Linked DNA regions of Homo sapiens. The protein of the gene in region 2 interacts with the protein of the main gene of each other region in a pairwise test. Each region holds a gene or a part of one and is shown on either strand. Other genes may lie near its edges.

Region 1 (7,447 bases), on a different chromosome or scaffold from region 2:
AATGCAATTATTCTTTAAGAGACAGAGAACTCAGAATTTGGCAAAATACAAGAACACTCATACAGGGCTCCACACAGGAAAACAAACACCAAGCAGAGTGCCCGCTCATTTTCCTAGGAACCATGAAATCTCAACTCAGACACTATAATTGGACTGAAGCTGATTGTTATGATAAACAAATCATGAAGATCAGAATATCTTGGTCTTCTATCCAACAGAACCAGAGCATGTGGAAATTAGCAACGAAATGGATTTTAATCTATCTGATGTGCATCCACTCTTTTCACTAAGAGCAAGGATGCCTGTGGAATTTATACGATTCATCCAGACTCTCACAAATTATGGTAGAGCTGGTACTAGAATCTGCTTCAGGGCTCAGCATACTTCACACAAACTGGTATTACAAATGCATTATGTGTTTGTTAAAAGCAGAAATTAGAAAAGAATCTGAAAATTGTTAGCTGTTGGTTATACACCAAACTAAGAAAATGCTGTCACGTTTGATGATTCAATATGGCTTTGACCCAATTTGTTTCTGTATCTGATAGTGTTTAAGTCTTGCAATCTGGCATTTGGGTCTGAACGACGTTTCAAAGAACATTTGCATTTGCACTGTGTTTTTAAAGTAGCACTAATGTTATCCCTCTATTATCAAAAGTATAATACTGTGTAAATGAGAAAGCACATAACTTTGCATCTTGCTGGATAACATACCTGCTTCTGGCATTTTACAGTGTTCCTCTTTAGGTATTATCTTCACCTTGACGCCGGAACCCAAATCCAGATTTATCCCCGGTGTTTGACTGATGCAGCTCTTGCAGATCACCTTCCATGTCGCGCACTTCAAAATACAAAGGTTATCGATTTAAGCATTCCAACATGAAATATAAATAAGGAAATGATAATATTCTCTTCCTTCGCGTTACGAAATAAAGCCTGAGCCAGGCGTAGTGGTTCATGCCTGTAATCTCAGCACTTTGGGAGGCCGAGGTCGCTTGAACCCAAGAGCTGGAGGTGGCAGTGAGCCAAGATCATGCCACAACAATCCACACTGCGTGACAGATGAGCCTCTGCCACATAATAAAAAAATGTACATTTCTATACACCAAATTAAATGGTTTCAAGTGATTTAGTAAGGACTGTATTTTCAAGCATACAAAATCCATCTCGAAGAACAAGAGAAGATTCATTATATCCAGGGACAGCATGAAGCTGCAAACTATACTCTCCCTTTTCCAGCCAACTTTGAGCAAATGTTTGGTATCTTTTCCTAATGTTCTCTTTGCTCCTGTTACTGCTCATGGCATAGGCCACAATGCACACATAGACCTTCTCCCGCCCCATAGACATACTTTCCCTTCCCAGCACCTGGGATCTCAGCTGTATCCTGATCTTCTTCTGTCTGCTGCCCAGGTGTAGGATCCCGACTTTCAGCTGCTGGTTCTTCTTTTTGGGGCTCTCCATTACTGGGCTCCTGGGACTGGCTGTGTGGTTCTGTGTTTGTGTGTGTCTAGATAAAAAGTTTTGTTATTAATACATGTCAATAATATAAATATACAGAATACACAGGTATGTCTTATTATAAGTATGTCTAGAGACATTTCTCCAACACTACCCCGTATACCTAATCTTCATAACACTATTCTTCCCTCAGAGAGGTTACTCAAAGACAGATATCCTCAGGGACTTTGGAAGCCGTTTTAATCAATGTTGGGATGAATGTGTGTAATCTGTTCTGAATAAGCATGAGGAGGAAGTTATGGACAAAATCTGGGCACACACGATCATCCACCCACACAAAACCCAAATATAACCCTCTGGACTAATCTTTCCTTCATGGGATGCCATGATCATTTTTTATCAGCATGGGAGACCATTATCAGTGTATCCATACTAGTCCATCAACACTATCAGAAAAATAACTTTCTGCTAAGAGAAAACATCGAATGTTAAGACATTCACAAGCAGAGGCACAATGAGCTCAGGAGGTTGTGAACTTCTTGGCATAGGCCTATATGTTGATCGTCCTCATCAACACATACTTCACTCTGCAAGCAGAATACTGCGATTGGGAAAATGCACTTGACAGGACAACTAGATTTGACCGCTTTCATGGTCAAATGTTAACTTGGACATTTTTTTTTTTTTTAATTTAGAAATACTCTGAAAGTCCCCGGGCAAGTATAAGTGTATGCACCTTTTGAATCGAATGCTTGCAAAGCCACTTAAGTAGGTCTAGCTAGCTGAGCGATGTCTTAAGGCTCCTGGCAAAAAACACAGGGCATTTCCCATGAGGTTGGTTTCACAACTGGACACTCCATCAGGGAGACAAGTAGGAAATTACAGCTACAGAACTGAAACTGCAGTGACCACCAATTTTGTCACATAATGATTTGCTAGGCCCACTTCCCCCCCACCCCAAAGTCACATTTTTAGGAACTCAGGGCCCCGCCCATTGGAATCTCCACAGTGGAGTTGAGAATTTGCTACACAGCAGTGGGCACTCCTCACAGGACCCCTATGCCAGGCACTCTACAGACCTCGGGGCTGCGGTCACTAGCCCGCAGCATGCCCCGTCTCCAGGACCCTTCCATACCGCTCATGCCGTCCCTCTCCTGGTCCCGTCTGGGGAGTCCAGAATCTTCTGTCGGGGTTCCAGGTGCTTCTGGGACTCGGATACCCCCAACAGCACCCCAGCTTCGCCTGAGCCCCTCCACTCCTCGGCCCTCCTTCCTCCCTAGTTATGGCCGTGACGAGACAAGAAGGTCCATGGGCGTGGCACCGCATGAGAGGGACGACGACTTCGAGGGCCTTCTCACTCTGAGTCACTGACCACACAACCCTCCGGAAGCCTGCTGGTTCCTCTTCACTCTCACTCACACTTCAACTCCCAGTTGGATCTGCCTGTGGACCTACCCGCCGTGTCTCAGTAGCGGAGAAAGAATCCAGACCTCAGGGACCCGAGTCGCCGGCTCACAGCTCCGCCGCGTTCCCCACACTGGCGAAGGGGCCGATGGGAAGACGCCCAGTGAACATGCGCACTGAGGTGGGCACCAAAGGAGCATGCGCAGTGAGGTTCCCTCGTGCCTTAAGGGCTGTGGTGCCCCTCCTTATCCCGCCTTGCCCTGTCCTATGCTCCTTCCCAGGTCCCCATTAACGACTTTGGAATCCCTCCTCTCTGTGTGTGGGTTCCCCCCCACCAGGACTCAAATACCTCAAATAAAGTCAGCCTTCAAAACTCACTCCATGACCGGGCGCGGTGGCTCACGCCTGTAATCCCAGCACTTTGGGGGGCGGAGGCGGGTGGATCATGTGGCCAAGAGATCGAGACCATCCTCGCCAACATGGTTAAAACCCGTCTCTACTGAAAAATACAAAAATTAGCTGGGTGTGGTTGTGCGCGCCTGTACTCCCAGCTACTCGGGAGGCTGAGGCAGGAGAATCACTTGAACCCGGGAGGCGGAGGTTACAGTGAGCCGAGATTGCGCCACTGCACTCCAGCCTGGTGACAGAGCAAGACTCCGTGAAAAAAAAAAAAAAACTCACTCCATGCTCACCTGACCCTCCTCCCCGCTATGGCCCTCCTTCGTCCCATGCCCGGGACCCCACAACAGCAAGGCCATGGCAGTATCGCTGAGTTTTAGTAGAAAGATGACGACCTCAGAGGCCATGGACCAAGTGGCACAACCCACAGGAAGCCCCCCACGCTCCCCCTCACACTCACTCACACTTCACTTTCTGGGAGGACTGATCTGCAGACCTACTGGCTAAGTCATAGTCAGCACGAAAGAAGGAAGTCACGACGTCTCCTTTCACAGTTGTGGAGGGACAGAAGTTAGAGAGCAAGGCGCATAGGCAGCAAGGAACTTTCATAGAAAGGGACATGCACATTGAGCCAGGGACTTTTCAGGGCAGGGTAGGGTTTTCCGCTGTTCCCAGACCCGCATCCCCATGGCGTTTGTAGTAGAAAAAGGGACTTGAGAGCTTTCGTCTCTCTTTGTCCAATCTCATGCATTCAGAAACGTTGGGAACAGACAGTCCCTTACTGGAGGATGTGTCTCAGGAAGACCTTTTGTGGAAGAAATAAATTATTTTCATATCTTTATTTATAAAGCCGTTTTTATTTATTTTTTTTTCCAGACAGAGTGTCACTCTGTTGCTCAGGCTGGAGGGCAGTGGCATGACCATACCTCACTGAAGCCTCCATCTCCTGGGCTCAAACAATCCTCCCGATGTAGCCTCCCCAGTCCCTGCTACTACAGGTGCAGACACCACACCTGGGTAATTGGTTTATTTATTATTTATTTATTTTTTAGATAGTGGTCTCACTGTGTTGCCCATGCTGGTCTCAATTTCCTGGGCTCAAGTGATCCTCCCACCTTGGCCAGTTTTATAAATGCTTTTATTAATCACTTTGTTCTCTGGTTCTGGGTTTTCTGCCATGCTTCCAATAAACGTAATTGAATAAATTCTTCTGTAGAATAAATACATTCACACCTGTTTACTCTTTTCTTTTTAGGTTGTGTTACTTCACATTTAAATCTCTGGACTGGTAACTGATTTCCCTGAATATACCTGTAGGTCATTCAGACAGTATATGTTTCAGAAATAGCCATAGATTCTGACTGTAGGCTCTAGGCTCAGTTATGACCAGAAAACAAGTCCTGCCAGTCTCCTACCTCAAATGTATGTTTGTGTATTGACCTGATCCCTGGGACAAGTTTCCCAGACTGAAATCATGGTATCATAAAGCTGGACGCTTTCTTGAGGGGATAGAGTAACATCCATATTTTCAATCCGTGTGTAAATAAATTAATTAATGGATGAAAAGATGTATGCAATAATGCAAAGCAGAATAACAGGTATTTGATTAATACGGCATCACCAAATTTTGCTTTAACAGATCTGATCGTAATTATTTCAGTCTTTGTGGGTCATGTAGTTTCTGTGGCGTAGTGTTGTGTTTTTTAGCAATAATACTTTTAAATGGAAAAAAATCCTTATCTCAATGGCTATGCAAAACAAGCCATGGGCTGTATTTAGATCTCAAGCCATAGTCAGCTAGCCCCTGGATTATCTTTTACTTCACATATTTGAATGCTGTATTTTTGTACCAGTAGTCAAAAGATTAACAAAGGAGAGTTCTACCACCAGGTAAGATTTAGAAAGCCTCAAGAGAAAGTCACTTTAGCCTTGAAAATGAAAAACAGCCTAATAATCTATAACGTTATCTTTTGTTTTGCTTTGTTTTTAGATCATGAGAGACCTGAGGTAACAAGGCAGCCATGGGAACTGATCCAAAATGGTGACTTAGTCCCTCTGAGGAGGGATGAGACAAACAAACTGCATCACCTGTGGCAGAGCATGTGTGGAAGAAGTGACAGCCATAACAGGGGGTAAGAAGAAAACCAGTGAAAATGTAGCAAATTCATAAAGTTCGAACACAGGCATTTGAGAGAGCTGGAATCCTGGCAAGTCTCAGACACCAGCGGAATTCACGTTCACAGACAGAAAGACATCCTGTCTCAAAAAACAGAGTCAGAGTCTATAAGGCTGGATAAAAAGCAAGAACAAAAATAACAGACGCTGGTGAGTTTGTGCAGAAAAGGCAACGCTTATACCCTGTTGGTTGGAGTATAAATTAGTTCAACCATTGTGGAAAGGAGTGTGGCAATTCCTCACGGACTTAAGAACAGAAATACCATTTGGCCCTGCAATCCCATTGCTGGGACTATACCCAAAGGTACATAAACCTTTCTATTATAAAGACGCATGCACATGTATGATCATTGTAGCACTACTCACAATAGCAAAGACATGGGATCAACCTAAATGCCCATCAATAACAGACTGCACTTTTTAAAATGTGGTACATATACACCATGGAGTACTATGCAGCCATAAAAAACAGTGAGATCATGTCCTTTCCAGGAACACGGATGGAGCTGGAGGCCATTATCCTTAGCAAACTAATGCAGGAGCAGAAAACCCAATACCACATGAAGTCACTTATAAATGGGAGCTAATTGCTGAGAACACATGGACACCCAGAGAGGGCCAACACGCTGGGGCTTATCAGAGGGTAGAGGCTGGGAGGAGGGAGAGGATCAACAAAATAACTAATGGGCACTGGCCTTACTACCTGGGTGATGAAATAATCTGTACAACAAACCCCATGACATGAGTTTACCTATATTACAAACCTGCACATGCACCCTGAACCCAAAATAAAAGTTAAAAGAAAACTCGAAAATAATTGTGAACTCTTCTGATCTTTCTACTTTACAAATATCAGTTCACTTCTTTTTATAAAAGGTAGGAAAGAAGGAAGGGAGTGAGGCATGAAGGGAGCCAGGGAGGAAGGGAGAAAATAAGGACAAATGGAGCGAGGGAGGGAGGGTGGAAAGAAGTAAAGGAGGGAGGGAGGGAGGCAGGAAGGGAGGCAGGAAGGAAGGAAGGAAGGAAGGAAGGAAGAGAAAAATAGGGCTGAACAAACGTTTCTGTCCCTAGCCAAACAGCTCTTGATGGGAAGGCACTTTTAGAAACTTGAGTGAAAAGTAACATAAATCAGAGGATTTGAATCATCTTCATTTACAGCCCTTCAAAAGTTATTCTGGCTGTTGTTTCTGAGCGATTCAAACCTGCCTTGGTCTCCATTAAATCCACATATTCTTCAGAAGGGCAACTCTTCCCTGGATTAACAGCTCAGCGGAGGACCAACACAAACTGGTTAGTCTAGGAAGAAAAAGAAAAGAAAAGTGCAGGAGACCAACATTTCCTCCCCCGTGGTTTTTTTTGTTTTTTTTTTTGTTTTGTTTTGTTTTTTTTTTTTACATCTCCTCCTCAATCTACAGAGGGATATTTGAATCTCCACATTTCAAAGCTAAGAGAGCTCTGAGAGATCATTTTATATAGTTGTTTCTCAAAGGATTTTTAGCAAAAGAACACCTTCGTGAAATGAAATTTTACCCAAAACCCTACTGTAGAAAATAGGGGGATAAAATTATATTTTTCATATAAATATACCACTTTAATGTGAAGATATCTTTCTATGAAGGCTGTCAAAGAGTTTGATTGAGGTTCTTTTGAAGAGCCGAGCAGATTATTCTGTGGATTTCTGCGTAACATTTTAGTTGTATATTAACTTCTGCATCTAATTTTTCGGTACTTTTATTGTTGTTGCACAGTTGCAAGAGGATCTTGATTTTCACAGTATATTTATCAGTAATCTGTATCTTGAAAAAAAGAGCCCCACTCTACAAATAAATAAGATACAAGTAAAAGATGGAAAAAGATATTTCCTGCAAATATGAATCACATAAACTCAAAGTGTGAAATTAGTATCTCACAAAGCACACTTTATAGTGGAGATTACTACAAGGGACAAAGTGGGACATTACATAATAATCATAGAGAGGTGCATTGATTCAGAAGACAGAAACACCAC
Region 2 (7,090 bases):
TTGGATCTGTTCATTTGTTCAACTTATAGTATTTTTGAGGTATTAAAACAAAATAAATTAGGGATTTATATGTGCTGCCTATTTTATTAGACATGCAACATGCAATCCTCTCTCTCAACAGAAAGCTACAATTTTATCACTTCCGTGTCTGAAGTGAAGATTACCATCAGCATCTTGAGTGAGAAAATCAGACAGAGTGTTCATATCCTTTCCTCATGGATCTGGGCCAGAAAAGTTTCCGGCTCACTCACCTTTGGGTTCGTGTGATTCATCATCACTGTCCGAGCTATCATTACTCACAATATGCTTTGTGGTAATATTTTCTGTGAAAAGAAAACAAAAAAATTGAAGCATTTCAGGTGTCAAAATTAACAATTAATTTTAATATAAAAAAGTAATCTGAGCAAAACCACAGAGTGAGATCTACTAGCTCTACTAGTATAAATTTAAATCCATTTAATAATTCTAGATTTATTAGATTTAATCATGTTCTCAGATTTCTCACTGGAAACAAAATTTCCTGGGACATGAAAAATTAGTTTATATTTATTAATTCATGACTTAAAGAGGATAATTTTATGTTTATCATAATTCTGACAAAAATAACAACTTGATTATAGGAAGCTCCTTGTTATACCAAAAAATATGCCTTTTTCTTTATTAGATATTTTTAAGTGGTGTTTATGAAGATAAAGGATAAAACCAAAATCTACAGGTGAGCTACCAAACAGTTTTCTTAAAATGAATGAAAGATACTAACATAAATTATCTTTTGACTTTCAATAATATTGAAAATTGTCAGTTGAAATTCACCTTTTGGTGTCAAGAATTTGTGCTTCCTGCAGAACATATTAAGAGAGCAGTTATAAAAACTAAAATAACAACCAGAAATCCTTAAAACAAAGACAGCAGTAAATTCTAGCATAATAACTAGTTATCTTTCTTCTTTATGTTTTTTAAATGGTTACCCAGGCTGGCCTGCAGTGGCATGATCTCTGCTCATTTCAACCTCTGCCTCTGGGCTCAAGCAACCGTTCCACCTTAGCCTCCTGAGTAGCTGGGATTATAGGCATGGACCATCATGCTTGGCTAATTTTTTTAATTTTTTTTTTTTTTTTTTGGTAGAAATGAAGTCTCACTCTATTGCCTAGGCTGGTCTCAAACTCCTGGACTCAAGTGATCATCCTTCCTTGGCCTCCCAAAGAACTGGGATTACTGGTGTGAGCCACAGTGCCCAGACTAGTTGTCTTTTTTCAAGTAAAATGTGCGTGAATGAGCAAGAGTTAGTAATGGAAGGGTTAATAAATGCTTAAGGCAATGGATTGACATTTATTTTTTAAGTTTTTACTGGCATGATTATACATAAAAAATTTGATTAAATGTTCACAAGCTAATATTATTAGTTTCATTTCATGGCTATCATCAATAGTAATTTTGTTACACAGAGGTGTGGGAGATGTTAAGAAATGATCTATCCCAGGTGCCATATACATTAGGTGTGTTTCTAGTCCTACATTTATTTTCTTTTCCTTCCTTAAGTATTTTCTTTCTTTCTATTGCCTTTCTTTCTTTCTTCTTTCTTTTTCTTTTTTCTTTCTTTCTTTCTTTTCTTTCTTTCTCTTTCTTTCTTTCTCTTTCTTTCTTCTTTCCTTCCTTCCTTCCTTCTTTCTCTTTCTTTCTTTTTCCTTCTTTTTCTTCTTTCTTTCTTCTTTCTTTCTTTCCTTTCTTTCTTTCTGTCACATATGATAGTTTAAGAAAATAGTTCACCAAAATACTGTCTTATTTGTAAGGAAGAATTCACGATATGAATAGCTAACTATTCTGAATTTACATATTTTCCATCCTAGTATAATGTACAACTCCATCTCTCAAAAGTGTAAATTTTTCACATTCATTCAAAACTCCTTAGAGAGTAAGTAGTTTCATTCAGAGTTACCTGATTGTAGCCCAATTTACCTTAAAGTCTTTCTTCAGAAGGAAGAAAACAAAAAAGTAAAAATCATCTCTGAACACTCCTTTAGGAGATAGACTTCAGTCAGCCAAAGGATAGAGTAGTCACCAGGAGTCCTCAGAGTCCTCTTGGTCACCTCTCTGGTTTCATTTCTGGAAATCCTTACTTAATCTGAGGTAACATGCTTCCTGCTGACTGGCGGATCACACATACACGATATTCCCCCTCAGTCTGACACACAGTCCGAGTCAATAAGCTGCCAGACTGCCGGCCTCTAAAGAAACTTCTCAACAAAGAACCTTCTCAAAACTACCTAGTATAAACCTCCTCCTTTTCCTTGGCTTTTAGCCACTGTCTCACCCACATTCAGATCTGTTATTTCAGTCCTATTCTCTTCCTGCCTTAAGAAGAAAAAACAGCAAACCCTGGGTTATCTGGATTATTCAACAGAGGGGCACAGGAAGCAAGCCTCAATATGTGATCTTCTCTTTCTTCTTCTTTTTTTTTTTTTTCTAAAATCTTCACATAACTTAGAGAAAGGGTTTGTTATTTCCACAAAGAGTTGGGAACAGGACATTCATCTGGGATATAATGTTCATTAAAAGAAATCAAGTAAGATCATTTTATCATTATACACATTGCCTTGCAGTTACTCTTAGGAGAATGTGCCCCGTGGTAAATGTCACAGCAGGCTCATGGGTGCCACCTACCTTGTTTGCTCATTAACTGGGTGATGATCAGAGGACAGAAAATAAACAAACACAAGGTGCCTTATTTGTGTGTTTGTTTTTATTTTTATTTTAAAATCTTTGGCTCCAATGAAATTATAAGATAACTTTTCCATTATTCATTAAGAACTAACAAAAATACAAATGACACTCTTGAAAATATTATGAACTACAGGAGTTTACCACACTAAATACAAATATTAAATAAATTATCAAATAACTAAAATCAATTGTAGGAGCAGTGGAAATACTGCTTATAAGCCAACTTAATGTTCCAATTAATGTTACAATTGTATTCTCTTTTGCATGTAAACTTAATTAAATCAACTGACATTGCCTGGGATAACCAAGGACAGCTTGTTTAAAATTCCTGCAGGAAGCTTTTTGTATGCAAGCATTCTTCAAATAAATTAATTATTTAAAAAGTCATCAATGTTATTCTGTCGACTTCTTTGTTCTCAGATAGATCTTTGCTACTTCCCAGATAGAGAAGAGATAGTAGGTAGTTGTGTTGATAGTCCATCAGGCACTTCTCCCAGGTCCCTGCTGTTATGGCTCCAAATTCAGATTTAGCATGCCACCATTTCTTTATGCTATCAGTCAAAACAGTCAACCCAAAAATTAATGTTGATTAAAATACAGGTGGCAAGGCTTTTGGAAGAAACTGAATATAAATTTTTTGTTTGCTTTAAGTCAAATTTATTAATTTAAGAAAACATGTTTCTATGGTATTCCTATAATGAATGAAAACCACTGGTCCCCAGTTGAGATTGTCTACTTTCTCAGGTTTTGTAAATATTCGTAATTTATTATAGGCCAATAGGTTAGATTTAATGAAAATCATTAGTTTAAGTGTACTAGAGGTGATTTGATTTTTTTCCTTCTTTTGGGTATAGATTAATATAAGATGCTAACAGAATTCTGGTGAGTTAATATTTAAGGGTTAAATAAACTGACAAGCATAAGCTTCAGTGTTACATTGTATTTAGCTGTTGGTGAATCTAATCTTTAAAAAGCTATTCTTATTTGATAAAAAGAGGACTTTCTAATACAAATAGTATGTTTAGCAGTATAATGCGAAAAAGGAATAGAGATGTGTTCTATTAAAAATTACTCTTAGAAATCAATGATTTTTATGAGTTTTATAACCTCAGTGTCAAAATAATACTTAAGAAGTAACATATTATTTTTAGGAAATATTTAGATTGATTCAACCAAATTATTAATAAATTTAGAATAGTTGAAATATTTACAAAGATTTAATATTCTCTCTATATATGTCAATAAACTTTATCAATGTAGCAAGATTTGTATCAATGTAAGCATATCTTTAGGATACCTAATTCTTCCTCCATTGTGGAGCCTCTGCTTTGTGAACCAGAAACGCCCAAAACTCTGTTGAACAATATGGAAAAGGCACTGCCCCAGACACCTAAAATAAAACAGAAACAGAAAATAACTTAAAATATCCCAGGTTTCAAAATAGTCAAGCAAGTCAATGATATATTTTTATTTTGATCACTTACCCATTAAGAAATGCAAGGGGTTTTCTTCATACTTCTTAACGACTGTTCCCATAAAAAATTTGCTTCCAAATAAGTCGGGAGCCATAAAAGTACCATATTTAGCCATGCCAATTTCGTATGGACTAAATTCAACCCAATCTGAAAGTATTTTAAAAACAAGGCAATCCATTAATAGGAAAATGCTATGGCATGGTGTGCACAATTAATGATCACTTTAATAATGTTATGCTTATTCTCATTCATGTATTTAAAATATCAAAATGAAAACATTAGCCAAATGCCCATTATGTATATGACATTGTGTAGAAGTTGGGGGAAAAACGCTTAGAGGTGAATAAGACAAGACGATACAAAAAGATCCCTTCTAATTTGCAGAAATTAGATGCACTTTTCTATTTAAAAACTCAGATGTCTTTTTGAAGCCAGTTTTCATTCTACAGAACAGGAAACTGAAAACTGCTAACTAGATATAAATTTCATGGAGCATACAGAATAAATTAAACTCTTCTAAGCAATTCAAACAGTTTATTAAAATGAAATAAAATGTTTTCTAACATTTATCTTTTCTTCACCTTCACTTCAATTTTGCTCACTAACTGTCTATTCTAACTCCACAAGATTGCAATACAAAGTTTTTAGGTTGAATGCCTTAGAAAAACATGGTAATAGTGCCAGAGATGTATACTGTCTAAGCGCGGGGGCTCTGGAGCTGGACTGTCTGGGATCAAATCCTATTTTGCTGCTTATGAGCTGTGCTTACTGACTTGGGTATTATTCTCTCTGTCTTAGGTCCCTAATCTATAAAATGTGAATAAAATCACATATCACAAGTAGATAGTGTGTAGGATTGTTTTGAAGATCCACTGAGTTAAGAAATGTAAGGAGCTTAGAAGAGGACATAGCACATTTTAATTGCTCAATAAATAGTAGCCACTTTATGTTTCATGTATTCCCATGGCTACGACTATGTCTAATTATCATCTGCATCTTGATGTCTTCAGCAAGAACTCCTGGTTTCTGATTCCCATTTTCTACATTTGCAACTCCTTCATTCTTCTTCTTGTTGGTAAATGGTACTATATTATTCATGCCACTACTCACTTCAGGATTACCCTTGATGGTTCTCTTTTCCCTTATAGCTTACACAGGAAAAATCAAGTGCTGTAGGCTCTATCACGAGGTATGTTTAGAACCTGGTCACTTATCCATTTGTCCACTGTGATCGTACTGATACAAATTGCTGTATTCTCTCTCCTGGACCTCCACAATAACCTCCTAAAATGCTTCTACTCTGTTCACTTATTATCTTTTTGATATCCCATAGCCAGAATAAATCTTTAAAAATATAAATCACAGCACACCAGTGTCATCTGAAAGCTTCCCATTACACTGAAAATAAAAACAGGGCCGACAAGTTTCCGTCCTGGCCTAGATCCCACTCCCTGTGTGATGTGACCACATCCCTCCTAACAATGTTCTATCACATTTTGTCTTGCGTATCCCACTTCACTTCAGCCACACGGCACAGATCTTCTTGCTGTTCCTCAAAGAAGTCAAGTTCATTCCCACTTCAGCACCTTACACTTGCTATTCCCTTCTGCAGTTATAATGCTTGCTCCTACTTAATCTTTATTTTAGGGTCTTTGCTGATGGTCCATTTTAAAATCCCAACATCATCCACCCCTGCCCAACTCATAATTCTCTAACCCACTTCATTTTTTTTTCTAGCTTTTCTCTTTCTGAAATTATAATATGTCTGTAATATCTTATCCAACAATACAAAATCCAAACAATTCAAAAATTCATAAGCTTCTTTGTTACTCATTTGTTTGTAAAATCTAATCTGAATTCATTTAGTGAGAAATCAGGCTTGAATGTTAGTGGGGGCTCTTATAATTCATTTATCCCACTCAATGTGGATATTTATATATCCTATTGGAGAAATATCACTGATTATAAGAACCCAATGGGGTATTAGGTAATACACAATATGAGTATCTTTATATCTCCAAAATCCAAACATTTTGAATTCTAAAACACATGTCACCAAAGGTTTGGAAAAGGAATTGTGGATCTATATTTATTGTTTGTTCAATGGTAGGTCACAACACCTTCCTTTCATGAAGGAAGTGATGAAATCACAATTTTGATAACATTGTAATTCATTATATGTCAAAGCCAAATGGTACATATATTCTTCATCAGAAAGTGGTGTGATTTACAACGATTTACGTGGAATTTGTGAGACATAACTAGCAATGAATCAGAGGCTGTTAGGAAAATTCCTGTATTCATACAAGTAATTTCCTATCTCTCAATTTCACAACCCTATCATGGGAACTGAGGCATAACAACTTCCTGGTTCCTGCTTTTCTAGCGATCTCTTCTTGATTAGCGCCATGGCCTGGGCACATAGTAACTTAGGCATTCTCAAAAGCTAAAATGAGCTCTGCACCCCTCACTGAAGAACTCACGGTGTTAGTTTTCAACTAATTCTCTCCTGCTGGTGACTCTACCTTTTGACTCCAACCTCTCTCCTGCGCTTCCATGTACTTTCAACTTCCTTTGGGGCCCTTACACTCAGATATTCTGTCATCTCCTCCCACTATACTTACCTAGATAAGAACTCATCACCCTTCTTCCCGGGCCAGCTTACCTATTTCAGTAAACCATGCTATCACTCTATCAAATCCATCATTGCATCACACCGATAACCTTTAGGCCTCTCATATCCATCTATTCTTTTCTTATCAGTATGTCCCTAGTTCCAGGGCCTTATCACAAAAGCACAGTGATATCTCTGCTTCCAGTTTCATTCCTTTCCATTCTGTTTTTATTGGTCACCAAAGTGACTTTTTCAAAAACACTACATAAATAATTTTATT

The links. The genes of interacting proteins can lie anywhere in the genome.
Region 1: the proteins of PLA2G4A (region 2) and XAGE1B interact in a two-hybrid assay, tested with the Homo sapiens proteins (one study listed by BioGRID).

What each region holds. Positions count from the first base shown.
Region 1 is NC_000023.11:52,514,064-52,521,510, forward strand, and holds the start of XAGE1B (X antigen family member 1), read right to left. Parts: upstream 3,001-7,447; 5' UTR 2,917-3,000; exon of another isoform or gene 2,788-2,916; coding exon of another isoform or gene 2,597-2,787; intron 1,511-2,596; coding exon of another isoform or gene 1,465-1,510; coding exon 1,369-1,464; coding exon of another isoform or gene 1,353-1,368; intron 842-1,352; coding exon 715-841; intron 1-714.
Region 2 is NC_000001.11:186,943,890-186,950,979, reverse strand, and holds part of PLA2G4A (cytosolic phospholipase A2), read right to left. Parts: intron 4,344-7,090; coding exon 4,206-4,343; intron 4,112-4,205; coding exon 4,019-4,111; intron 324-4,018; coding exon 252-323; intron 1-251. UniProt on the Homo sapiens protein: Has primarily calcium-dependent phospholipase and lysophospholipase activities, with a major role in membrane lipid remodeling and biosynthesis of lipid mediators of the inflammatory response.